4 separate regions of the Homo sapiens genome follow, and regions 2, 3 and 4 are each linked to region 1. Evidence: fine-mapped expression QTL. A gene starts in region 1. Each other region holds a variant in brackets. All regions are shown on one strand. Distances are from middle to middle. Region 1 holds the start of SH3BP5 (SH3 domain binding protein 5). Region 2 overlaps CAPN7 (calpain 7). Region 3 overlaps SH3BP5 (SH3 domain binding protein 5). Region 4 overlaps SH3BP5 (SH3 domain binding protein 5).

What was found.
Region 2: its variant is fine-mapped to the expression of SH3BP5 in fibroblasts (GENCORD, PIP 0.95).
Region 3: its variant is fine-mapped to the expression of SH3BP5 in whole blood (TOPMed, PIP 0.99). The same link has a PIP of 0.9 or more in blood mononuclear cells.
Region 4: its variant is fine-mapped to the expression of SH3BP5 in whole blood (TOPMed, PIP 0.95). The same link has a PIP of 0.9 or more in blood mononuclear cells.

What each region holds. Positions count from the first base shown.
Region 1 is chr3:15,331,050-15,333,691 of GRCh38, forward strand. It overlaps SH3BP5 (SH3 domain binding protein 5), which reads right to left and starts at 1,537. Exons shown (of 9, transcript NM_004844.5): 1 at 1,222-1,537. The coding sequence starts at 1,359. RefSeq lists silencers at 1,106-1,165, 1,246-1,645.
Region 2 is chr3:15,225,659-15,228,158 of GRCh38, forward strand. CAPN7 (calpain 7) reads left to right here. Exons shown (of 21, transcript NM_014296.3): 7 at 2,181-2,307. Among named protein-coding and RNA genes, the nearest start is that of CAPN7, 21 kb to the left of the region's middle. The variant A/G (reference allele first, on the strand shown) is at 1,247.
Region 3 is chr3:15,303,172-15,305,813 of GRCh38, forward strand. SH3BP5 (SH3 domain binding protein 5) reads right to left here. Exons shown (of 9, transcript NM_004844.5): 3 at 932-1,060. Among named protein-coding and RNA genes, the nearest start is that of SH3BP5, 28 kb to the right of the region's middle. The variant G/A (reference allele first, on the strand shown) is at 1,246.
Region 4 is chr3:15,256,923-15,259,564 of GRCh38, forward strand. It overlaps SH3BP5 (SH3 domain binding protein 5), which reads right to left. Exons shown (of 9, transcript NM_004844.5): 7 at 1,909-2,128; 8 at 1-191. It overlaps SH3BP5-AS1 (SH3BP5 antisense RNA 1), which reads left to right. Exons shown (of 3, transcript NR_046084.1): 1 at 1-684; 2 at 1,712-2,642. Among named protein-coding and RNA genes, the nearest start is that of SH3BP5-AS1, 4.1 kb to the left of the region's middle. The variant T/C (reference allele first, on the strand shown) is at 1,008.

The sequences.
Region 1 (2,642 bases):
CAATTATTCAACCTACTTAGCTGGACGTTTTAAACTAGCTTTAATCCCATTCCTTTCAATAAACATTTACAAACTGACATTTTGTAAAAAAAGTATCCAACATGAACTTAACTCATCATTACTATGCAAACAAAGGATCTTGCTAACATAATCCCATACCAGTAACACACGATTTATTCCAAACCAATTACTTTAATTAATAGCATTCCTAATGCAAGGATTTTTTTTCCACCTGATCTTTATCTTGCTAAGCTGACAAAACAATTCATTTAAACCCCAACCACTGAGTTAAGTGAGCTTTTAAATTGATCTGTGCACTAAAAAACCAATTAGGTATCCAGAAATTACAGAGCATGCTTAAAAGCAATTTTTTTAAAAAAATGATTTATTGAAAAGGTAGAAAAAAAACGGGCCTTAGAAAGGGATTTGCTCTGCTTTTTGCTTAGGGGTGAAGAGGTGAAACTGTCACTCCTAGATCTCGGCTTGGAAATTGTTTTTTAATCATCTCTCTTGGAAATGGAGGCACAGCCAGCCAGCCCAATCCCCTCGCCGCCTCCACGCGTCAGCTTTGCGCATCAGTTGTCCCCGATTTCTTTTCATGCCCAACCTCACAACAAGGAAAAGCAGGGTTTTAAGCAATTTCAAGCCAGGCAGAACGTTGAGCCAGTGATGACAATAAGCCGCTCAGTTCGCTAACAATCAATCAGAGAAGGAAAACGGCTCAGGCCGGGCACCTTGGCAAGTGAGGACTCTGCACCCGGGGCACCGGTGCCAGCCCGCGCTGCAGGGCAACGCCCACCCGCCCACGGTGCCCGGCGCCCACGCGGGCGACACCTCCTCGCAGAGCCTGGACGCCGTGCCATGCCCGCGGTGCCGCGGCCGGGCAGGGGTACCCCCGAGGATACCATGGCGCCCCCGCCCCCTTTTTCCCTTTGTTGCACATCCACCCGAACCACCAGGCACGCTGCACCGACCCCGATCCTGCTACGGGTCGGCGGGGGACTCCCCGCAATAGAGTCAGGCCGCATCCACGCGGGCACTGTAGCCTCCTCATTGTGGAGACGATGAAACGGAGCATACAGACCGTCTCCTGCCACCCTATGTGGCCGCCAGTCCCCGGACCACAGTTACTGGGGGCTGCGAAGTGGCTGTACGCGTAGACACCGACCTCCGTAGCAGCCCTCGCGAAGCCCGGATGCGGGGCGACCCCGCGCGCCCTACCTGGATCCGGGGATCCACCTCTTCTTCCTCCTCCAGCCCCTGCTCCATCCCCTCTTCCTCCTCCTCCTCCTCGTCCCGGGCAGGCGGCAGGATTTCGGCTGGCTCCTCCGAGCGGCTCCGCTTCAGTGCCGCGTCCATGCAGGCAGCCGGCACGCGCGCCGCGCAGTGGGCTCCGGAGCGCCCCGGGGGTCGCGGCTGCCACAGGCTGGGCTGGAGCCGCCTCGCCACAGCCGGGCACGGTCGGGGAGCCGCCGGGGCCGACACCCGGGAGACGCAGCTCGCCGATGCGGATACCTCCGGCCGCGGCGGAGCAGAGGAAATGGGCGCGGCCGCCCCCTTTCTGCCGCGGCAGTCAGCGCAGCGCCCGCTCCGCCCCCGTCCCGCCCCGGCCTCGCGTTCCGCCGCCAGTCCCAGCTATCCAGGTCTCCGTCGCAAAACCCCAGCTCCCTCCACATCTCCAAGGTGGCAAAATAGGACAGCCCCCACCCCCTTGTAACTTAGCAGCTCGGATATATCTCAACTACGTAACGCAAGCCTCCCGCTTTCGGGAGTCCCCTCCTCCAGCCCTCCTCCGAGGCTCGTTGTTTGTGTGGTAGGGAGGCGTGGGTGTTTTCACACTGAAGTCGCCTTCTGAAGCCTACGCTCAGTGACCCTGGCCCTCAGGACCAAGACTTGCCGAAACCCTATACCCAAAGCACACTCATCCTCTTGAGCGAACCTTGGGAATGGCGGAGGTTCCGTGCACTGATGCATTGCCGAAGGCTGCGGCCTCTCTGGGCGAGCCCCATACCGAAACACAGAGGTGCGGCGGTCCTACCTGAATAGCCAGGAGCATGGAGAATGCATTGAGCTGGGATTTAAGGAGGTGGCAAGTGTAACCCCTGTTGATGGGCACACTCTGGCCAAGAATTTATGAATTAGTGAGACTTTCTGCCCACCATCAACAAGTAGGGAGACAGAGTTGGCCTGGCAGACACAGCATCCGAAAAGGCCAAACTGAAGAGGCACGTGTGTGTGCTTTTATGAAATGTCAGGGCCACTGTGATGTCAGGGGAACGCAAAGGATGACCTTGGCAAAGCAGATGAGCACATGGCTGCTCACGTCTCCTTGCCTTGAGAAATGCAGAACGTGCACATGTCCTACACGGAGGCCTGTAGCCCATCGGCTCTGAGTTTGGAGGACAAATTTGCTTGAGAAAGGAGCTTCTTTCTGAGAACCTATCATCAAAGCCACCTTACAAAACCTGGGTCTGGCACAACGTGGTGGCTCGTATCTGTAATCCCAGCTCTTTGAGATGCCAGGACACAAGGATCACTTGAGGCCAGGAGTTCAACACCAGCCTGGACAATACAGCCAGACCCCTTCTCAAATGAATAAATAGTCCTGCTCCTGGTGGTTTTATCAGAAACTAGGCTAGAGG
Region 2 (2,500 bases), 110 kb before region 1:
TTGCTTAATGCTTGTCTGCTACTCTAGCATATAAACTTCATAAGGACAGAGACCATGTCTGTTTTAATTAAGTTGCACCCCAGTGCCTACCACAGTATCTGGTGTATAGTAGGTATTCAATAAATATTTCTTGAAGTAGTTAAATTGGGAGAAAAACAAGAATAAATACTAAAGTTACTATTCTAAGTGGCACGGTATTTTCTTATTTTTTAAATTATTTTACTTTAGGAACAATCAGAAGAAAAAGCAACAGTAAATGTTTTTAAGTTGGGTTAACAGATCATCAGGAAAAGGCTCCAGAATTTATCTTTCGCTAGAGAGATTGAATTATTTTTTAAAATTGTTTCTATTCGGTCGTGTATTACTTTTAAAATAATAAAATAAGCATTATTGAATAAATATTATAATTGTAAGTTTTTTTATTTTTTATTTTTTGAGATGGAGTCTCACTCTGTCACTCAGGCTAGAGTGCAGTGGTGCGATCTCAGCTCACTGCAACCTCCGTCTCCCAGATTCAAGAGATTCTTCTGCCTCAGCCTCCCAAGGAACTGGGATTACAGGCGCCCACCACACGCCCGACTAATTTTGTATTTTGGGTAGAGACTGGGTTTCACCATGTTGTCTAGGCTGGTCTCAAACTCCTGACCTCAAGTGATCCGCCCGCCTCAGCCTCCCAAAGTGCTGGGATTACAGGCATGAGCCACCGCGCCTGGCTGTAAAATATTTTTAATATATTTAAGTTCTGAGGGAAAAAACCTTGAATTTAATAATCCTCTAGTGACTTGAGAGAACAAATATTATGGAATCTTGGATTTATGCTGAAATATGGTTCATATGACAGGTTAATAATAGATTACGAATTTGAATTTGCATTAATTTTTTCTCCTCAAAATTTTTGAGAGCTGTCTTTAAACTCTTCTGAATTCAATTAGCTCACTTTCTGTTTACAGTTAGCTCCTGGTATTATACAGGTACCAAAATGCTACCTGGAATACTAGTGGTTCTGTGAGATGATAATAAAAAATGTTTGAGATATGTTATATGCCATATTCTATTTTAAGAGATTGCAATAAACATTGGCTTATTTAAAGTCTAGAGGTGTCCTTCAATGAAAAAACTAATACTTTAACCAGGAGTTTGTAGATCATACTTGACCACAAAATCCTCTCTTCTCCCAGTATCTGTCAGCATTCTTTGAAAAAAAAAAAAGTTATGTTTGTGCCAGTTTGCATATTATATACTTTCT[A/G]TTACTAGGAAATCTTTTGAAAACCAAGGATTTGTTGCTTCTGCTCTAGAAAGGGTTTGGGGATGGTTGGGCCTGGTGGCTTGTGTCTGTAATACCAGCACTCTGGTATTTACTTCAGGAAGGCTGGTATCAGCCTTGGCTGGAGGATCGTTTAAGCACAGAGGTTCTAGAGCAGCCTGGGCAACATATGGAGACCTCAACTGTTAAAAAAAAAAAAAAAAAAGTTTAGGGAAAGGGGGAAAGGTAGATGTTTCCCCTTGGTGTACACATCAATTTTAGAGAAACATTGTTACACACAGTGAGTAGAGGGTAATGGATAAGAATGGTGGATTTGGCACCAGAGACCTGGATTCAGATGCCAGTTCTGCTGTTTCTTAGGTGTCTGACCTTGGTAAGTCATTAATCACTTTAAGCTATTTCCAAAAATAATTCCTTTAATAGAGTTGTTTTAAGAATTAAGTGGATTATGTATGTAAAGCACTTTAGCATGATGCCTGGCACATGGTTAGTATTCACTAAATTAGCTACACTCATTATTAGCCTTGCCAAGTGGAGTTTGTAAAAAACCAGCTTTGAATCTTTAGCTTCCTAGGTCCTTTTGAATGAATCAGCTTGTACTATTGTTAATGGTTTCATTTTATTGCTGAATTTCTTGAATACAGTTATGCTAAATTTAAAAAATTATATTCTTAAATATAAATGAATTTAAGTTGTTCTTCTGTTTTCAATTATTTAGGTATATTTTTTAATTGGAGGGGATGATCAGGTTGACTGGACTCTATAAAGAGCCAGATTTGACCAGAAGGTTATTTTAAGATAATACAGTACTGCTATAATCACTAGACCAAAAAAAAAATCTCTAGGAAATTTAATTTTGGCTTTGAGTCATCTTTTAAGATTAATTTTTTTATTTTAATTTTTATTATTACCTCAGTGATAGATGGGGCAAGCTACCATTATCACCTAAACAAAAAACTACATTTTCCAAGTGGGTACGACCAGAAGACCTCACCAACAATCCTACAATGATATATACTGTGTCCAGTTTTAGCATAAAGCAGGTGAGCATTTATTTTGTATGATTTTATAGAAAAGTCAGCATTTTAAAGTAATTTGTGTATAGATTTGAGTTTTTTCTTAGATTTTTTATTATATATTCAGGTACAGAAGTGTAATTGGAAAAATTGTTCATTCTACACATTTTGACTGAAACATACTGAGATAATATAAGTATAAATCACTGTTTTGAGTGAT
Region 3 (2,642 bases), 28 kb before region 1:
TAAACACACCACAGGGACAGCACTGGGTCATTTGCTAGTGAACTACAATTTGGACCAACTGCTTAGATCTTCTTGGGAAATCTGAACTCTCATCTCAAGAGGCATCACAGGGTTGGTGATTCACATTAGCTCTCTAATCGGGAAGCCGAAGCAGGCTGAGGAAGGTGAATAAAGCCCCCAGCCCAGAGCCTGCCACACAGCAGGTACTAGTAACTGTTGAGGGCTCTTTACCTTCCCCATTCACAGGGCCTGGCTATCAGAGGCTGCAGGTGACACAAGTGGCACATCGCGTCACACAGCAGCCAAAGGAAGACCAACTCCTAAACCAGAACCCATTTCCACGCAGCCCCCAGCAATCGCCTGATCACAGTCCCCTCCGCCACTCCCCTTCTGGTCTCCGTTTCACTGCTTCTTATTTGGGCTCTCAGGACAAAGAACCAAAGTTTCAGCAGGACGATGGCCACGGAAGTCAGAATCCGCTAAGGAGTGTATAACAACTCACCTGCCAAATCTTAAAAAGGAAAAAAAAAAAAAGAAAAAGAAGAAGAACCGATGTTTCAAGAGAAGCAGAAGGCTAAACACTCCCAAGAGTGAGGCGAACGCGAGGCAGTAAGCGAATCTTCCTACTGCTGTCTGACAGGTTGTCATTAGGAGCGGAGGAGGAACACCCTCTGGACACGTCCCCTTAAGTGCACTCAGCACCAACTCAGGGAGAGCACCCACTTGCAGGGTCATCCAAATGCCAGCACTCACACCCTATTAATAGTGTCGAGCACTGGAATGAAGCAGATTGCGGGGCGGTGGGTCACTGCATTTAAGACATATTGGACTCGAGCTTCTAACCTTCAGCAGGTGATACAGTCAAAGGCACCCTTAAAACTGAGGGGTAGTGAGGCTCGAGGTAGGGGAGACATCTATGGGGCTATCTTACCTGCCTCGCCACCCTCCGTGCCTCCCAGTAGGGCTTGGAGTCTTCCACAGCTTTGCCAATTTTCTTCACCAGTTCATCCAGTTTCACCGTTGCTTCAACCAGAACAGAGCGGAACTTCTGACGAGCATCCTGCAGCCAGGGGAAACCGAGGAAACACAGTTGAGGCTTAAGAAGGGATCTGCAAACACCTACTGGACCTAGACAGAAACATCAACAAAGGACTTTACCCAACGTACAGACCCCTAAAGTAGCACCTTTACAAGACAGTGTCTAGAGCAGCACCGCCCAAAACAGCTTCCTGCCACGGCGGAAAC[G/A]TCCTGTGCTCTGCACAGTGCAGTGTGGCGGCCACCAGCCACGTGTGGCTACTGAGCACTTAAAACTGGCCGGTGTGACTGAGGAAAGGAGTTTTTAGTTTATTTAATTTTAATCATCTCGGGTGTGGTAGCTCACGCCTGTAATCCCAGCACTTTGGGAGGCCGAGGCAGGCCCATCACTTGAGGTCAGGAGTTGGAGACCAGCCTGGCCAACATGGCAAAACCCCATCTCTACTAAAAATACAAAAATTAGCCAGGCGTGGTAGCAGGTACCTGCTGTCCCAGCCACTCAGGAGGCTGGGGCACAAGAATCTCTTGAACCCAGGAGACAGAGCTTGTGGTGAGCCAAGATCATGCCACTGCACTCCAGCCTGGGTGACAGAGCACGACTCTGTCTCAAAAAAAAAAAAAAAAAAAGCTTAGTAAGCAACAACAACGCAAAGTTTCTGAGCACCTACTGTGTATGTGCACAACATGCTGTGCACTGTGGGGGAGATATCGGTAGGATGGACCCTTTGGAAATTAAGCCCGTCTCTACTAAAAATACAAAAATTAGCCGGGCATAGTGGGGGACACCTGTAATCCCAGCTACTCAGGAGGCTGAGGCAGGACAATCATTTGAATCAGGAGGCAGAGGTTGCAGTGAGCCGAGATCGTGCCACTGCACTGCAGCCTGGGTGACAGAGTGAGACACTGTCTCAAAAAAAAAAAAAATTAATTCATTATATTTAAAATTTTTTAATTAACATGGCTAGCAACTACTATATTGCATAGCACGGTATAGATTAAAAAGCTTTGTCCAGGACCTCTGGACAGCATGTTGTCAAAGCTCAGGACTTTAATCAGAGACATAGATTCAACACTGACCAAACCTCTATCTGGGGAAGAATGTCCAGCCATCTCTGACAGCTTCAGTCCAAATGATGCTGTCAATGTTAAACACTGAGTGCAAATTTATTTATTTATTTACCACATGCCAGACCTGGTGCTGGGCCTTGGGCGTGGCCCTGTCTCCAGGGCACTTACAGCCTGGTGGGTGAGGTAGGTATTACAGCCCGTTCCAGAAAAGTCAGTGCCAGGGTGGGAATGGTCCAGTCGCCATGGAACTCAGCAGGGAAGAATGGCGCCAGACCATGTATTAGAGGGAGAGTCACAGGAAACTTCCAGAGGAGTACTATCTAAACAGAAGTCCAAAGCATGAATAGGAAATTGGGGGAGGGGAGGAAAATACTGAGTCCCAAGCAGGCAGCAGAGCCTGTGTCCAGATAAGAGGGGAATGGGAACAGCATGGTGTCTGCAAGAAACTGAAGGAGGCCGGAGGTCTGGAATGTGGAGAATGGCAAGAGATAAGGGTGGCCATCCATCCTGGCGACAGCAACTAGCAACTTGGACCTTGA
Region 4 (2,642 bases), 74 kb before region 1:
CATCCCAAACTCTGACAGGGACACAGGGCTGGGCAGATCCAGGCTGCCAGGCCTCACAACCGCAGGGAACTGGTCAGGCATCTCAGACGGGCTTGTTGGTCCTGAACTAAAGCTGGACACGGACTGGGTTTCCGAGTCATCTTCAGACACAAAGTTGCTACAGCTGTCATCTTCAAAGGCCTCCGAGGCCACTAAGTTGAGAGAGAACACCAGTCACATGGGTTCTGTCACCTCCTCAAACACCACAAGTGCTTGCTGCTGGCAGGCAGCTAGACACAGCATGGGGGACTAAAGAGTCTCTACCTCTGTGAGTGCCTAATGAAGGAATGTGACTTCCCAAGCCTGAATGACCAGCCTCTAAAGCAGCTGGAAGGGAAGCAGCTGGCAGCAGGATCCCATGGATATTAAGCGCCCTTCCAATAACCTTATAACCCTGCCAAGAAATCAGTGTCACCAGACACCACCTAAAAATGGAAGATTAATTCAGCCACAAATTAGGACCTTTACTCCACCTCAGTCCCCCAAATACATCCTCATGTGCACAGGAAGAGGTTCTAGTCCTCTGTAACATATCCCAAACAAAGCCAGCTGGACTCAGGCTTCTTTCTTAGGGCAATAGAAGCAAGAGCTGCTAGAAGAAACAGGCCAGCATGGAACATCTGTTGGGACCTTTGTTATCTCCAGGTAACTTCTGATCTCATAAAGAACACACTCAAAGGCTACCCACATCACCATTTGCTGCAAAAGAACAGAAATCCTTTACAATGCTCTGTAGCCACATTATTTGGTAGACCAAAGTAACAAGGCCCAGACACATGTTATTCCCATGGTTTCAAAGCCTCTTTGGCCTTTAGCGGTTTTCCCTCAGCCTGCCCACAATCCCACTCCTTATTAGAACTTTCCTACTCCATTTTTCCCCCCCTTTCTCTTTAAAAACAGCCTTGTAGCATTCCATAAAGGTTTCTTATAAATGATAAATACTGTAATGTTGGGGACAGAAAATGGGC[T/C]CAGACCTGAATTGAATCCCTAACTCCACTACTTGCTGTGTGACCTTGGTCAAGTTACTTTACCTCTGTAAGCTTCATGATCCTCTCCATGCAGGGTTTGAGATGATGTATATATTAAAGTACCTCATACATAGTAGTTGTTCAAATGATAGTTTCCTTTTCCTTTACCTTGAACCTAGTACTTAAATATTTGTTGAAGGAATTAACTCCTGAGGAAGGAGCTTGGGAAAGAGCCGACAGGGATTATTGCACAGGTAAGGAAAAGAAAGGAAGTATGCAAAGACAGCGTTGGGTGGGTTTTCTTGATGAGCATGACAGAAACCAAGTCAAACTTCTATCAGTTTTCCAGGGGGAGGCCCTGGGAAAAGAGGTCTCTATGGTCAGATGTCAGTAAGAGCCACCATTTGCTGAGTGCTTCTTGGGTGTCAGGGGTTGATTCATGTAAGCTGAACCACCACCCTACACAACGGATAGTATACAGTAGATAGCGTCATACTCCCCATTTTACAGGTGAAGAAACTGAAATACAAAGTTAGGCCCTTGCCCACATCATGCCTTAGTAATGATGTAAAGGTAGCTTTGAATCAAATCTGATTACAGCTCTTCTTTCCTGCAGGACTTCTCAGCCTTGAATGTTCAAATGTATACTTTGACTCTCAAAGAGGAGTGAAGGTGTAACATTTTCCCAATTTATTTGACCACAGAATCCTGACTTTGAGGAACACTTAGTACCTTCTTAATGAACACAGTGTTCCATAAAACATGGGAACCCACCAGAAATAGCCCTCAGGCCTGCCCAACTCTGAGACCTTTCACTGATGGCCAGAGAAAGTGAGGACCTTGGGAAACAAATCACACAGTCTGATATCTCCCCACATACCCAGTGGAGCCCCTGACTTACCAGAAATGGCATCAGGCTCAGGTTTGCTCCCTGGCAGATCCTCCACAGATGTGCTGCTGCCCTCAGCACCAACACCGCATCCCCGAGGCCCCATGGCACTGGAGCGCCGCCGCTCGTGGATCTCATCTGAGATCATCTCCAGGTTCTTCAGGGCCATCTTGTACTCGCCTTTTGCCAGGGTCAGTTTGGCCTGCAGGTCATCCACAGTCTTTTTCAGTTGCTGATCAAGAGAACAGGAGACTAAGTGAAGACTACCCTGCTAGCCTTAAGATGCTTTCTGAATGACAGGTTCAAGTACATTTTCTGCCCATCATTCTACTTCAAGGAATTTTCCAAGACATGACTGAAGACCTAATTACCATTGTAACTGCTATTCATTCACCAGACAAAATCAGCCACCACCATCCCCAGATCCCATCCAGGTGACAACCTCTAATATCCAAAAACTCTCACTGGTGGAACAAACCCCATCAGGGAAGCAAAAATGGGCATCAGACACACCAAAGTCCCACAGTCTAGACATCTGGTTCCCAGTACAGTGGTTCTCAAAGTTGAGCTTGCATCAAAATCCCCTTGGGTGTTAAGACTCAGCTCACTAGACTCCAACCTCAGAGTTTCTAATTCAGTCGGTCTAGAGTGGGACCTGGTCTATCAGGTCTCCAGGTGATGCTGATGCTGCTGGTCCTAAGAGCATGCTGTGAGAACCACTGGCCTAGTACAACAGAGAAGGTGAC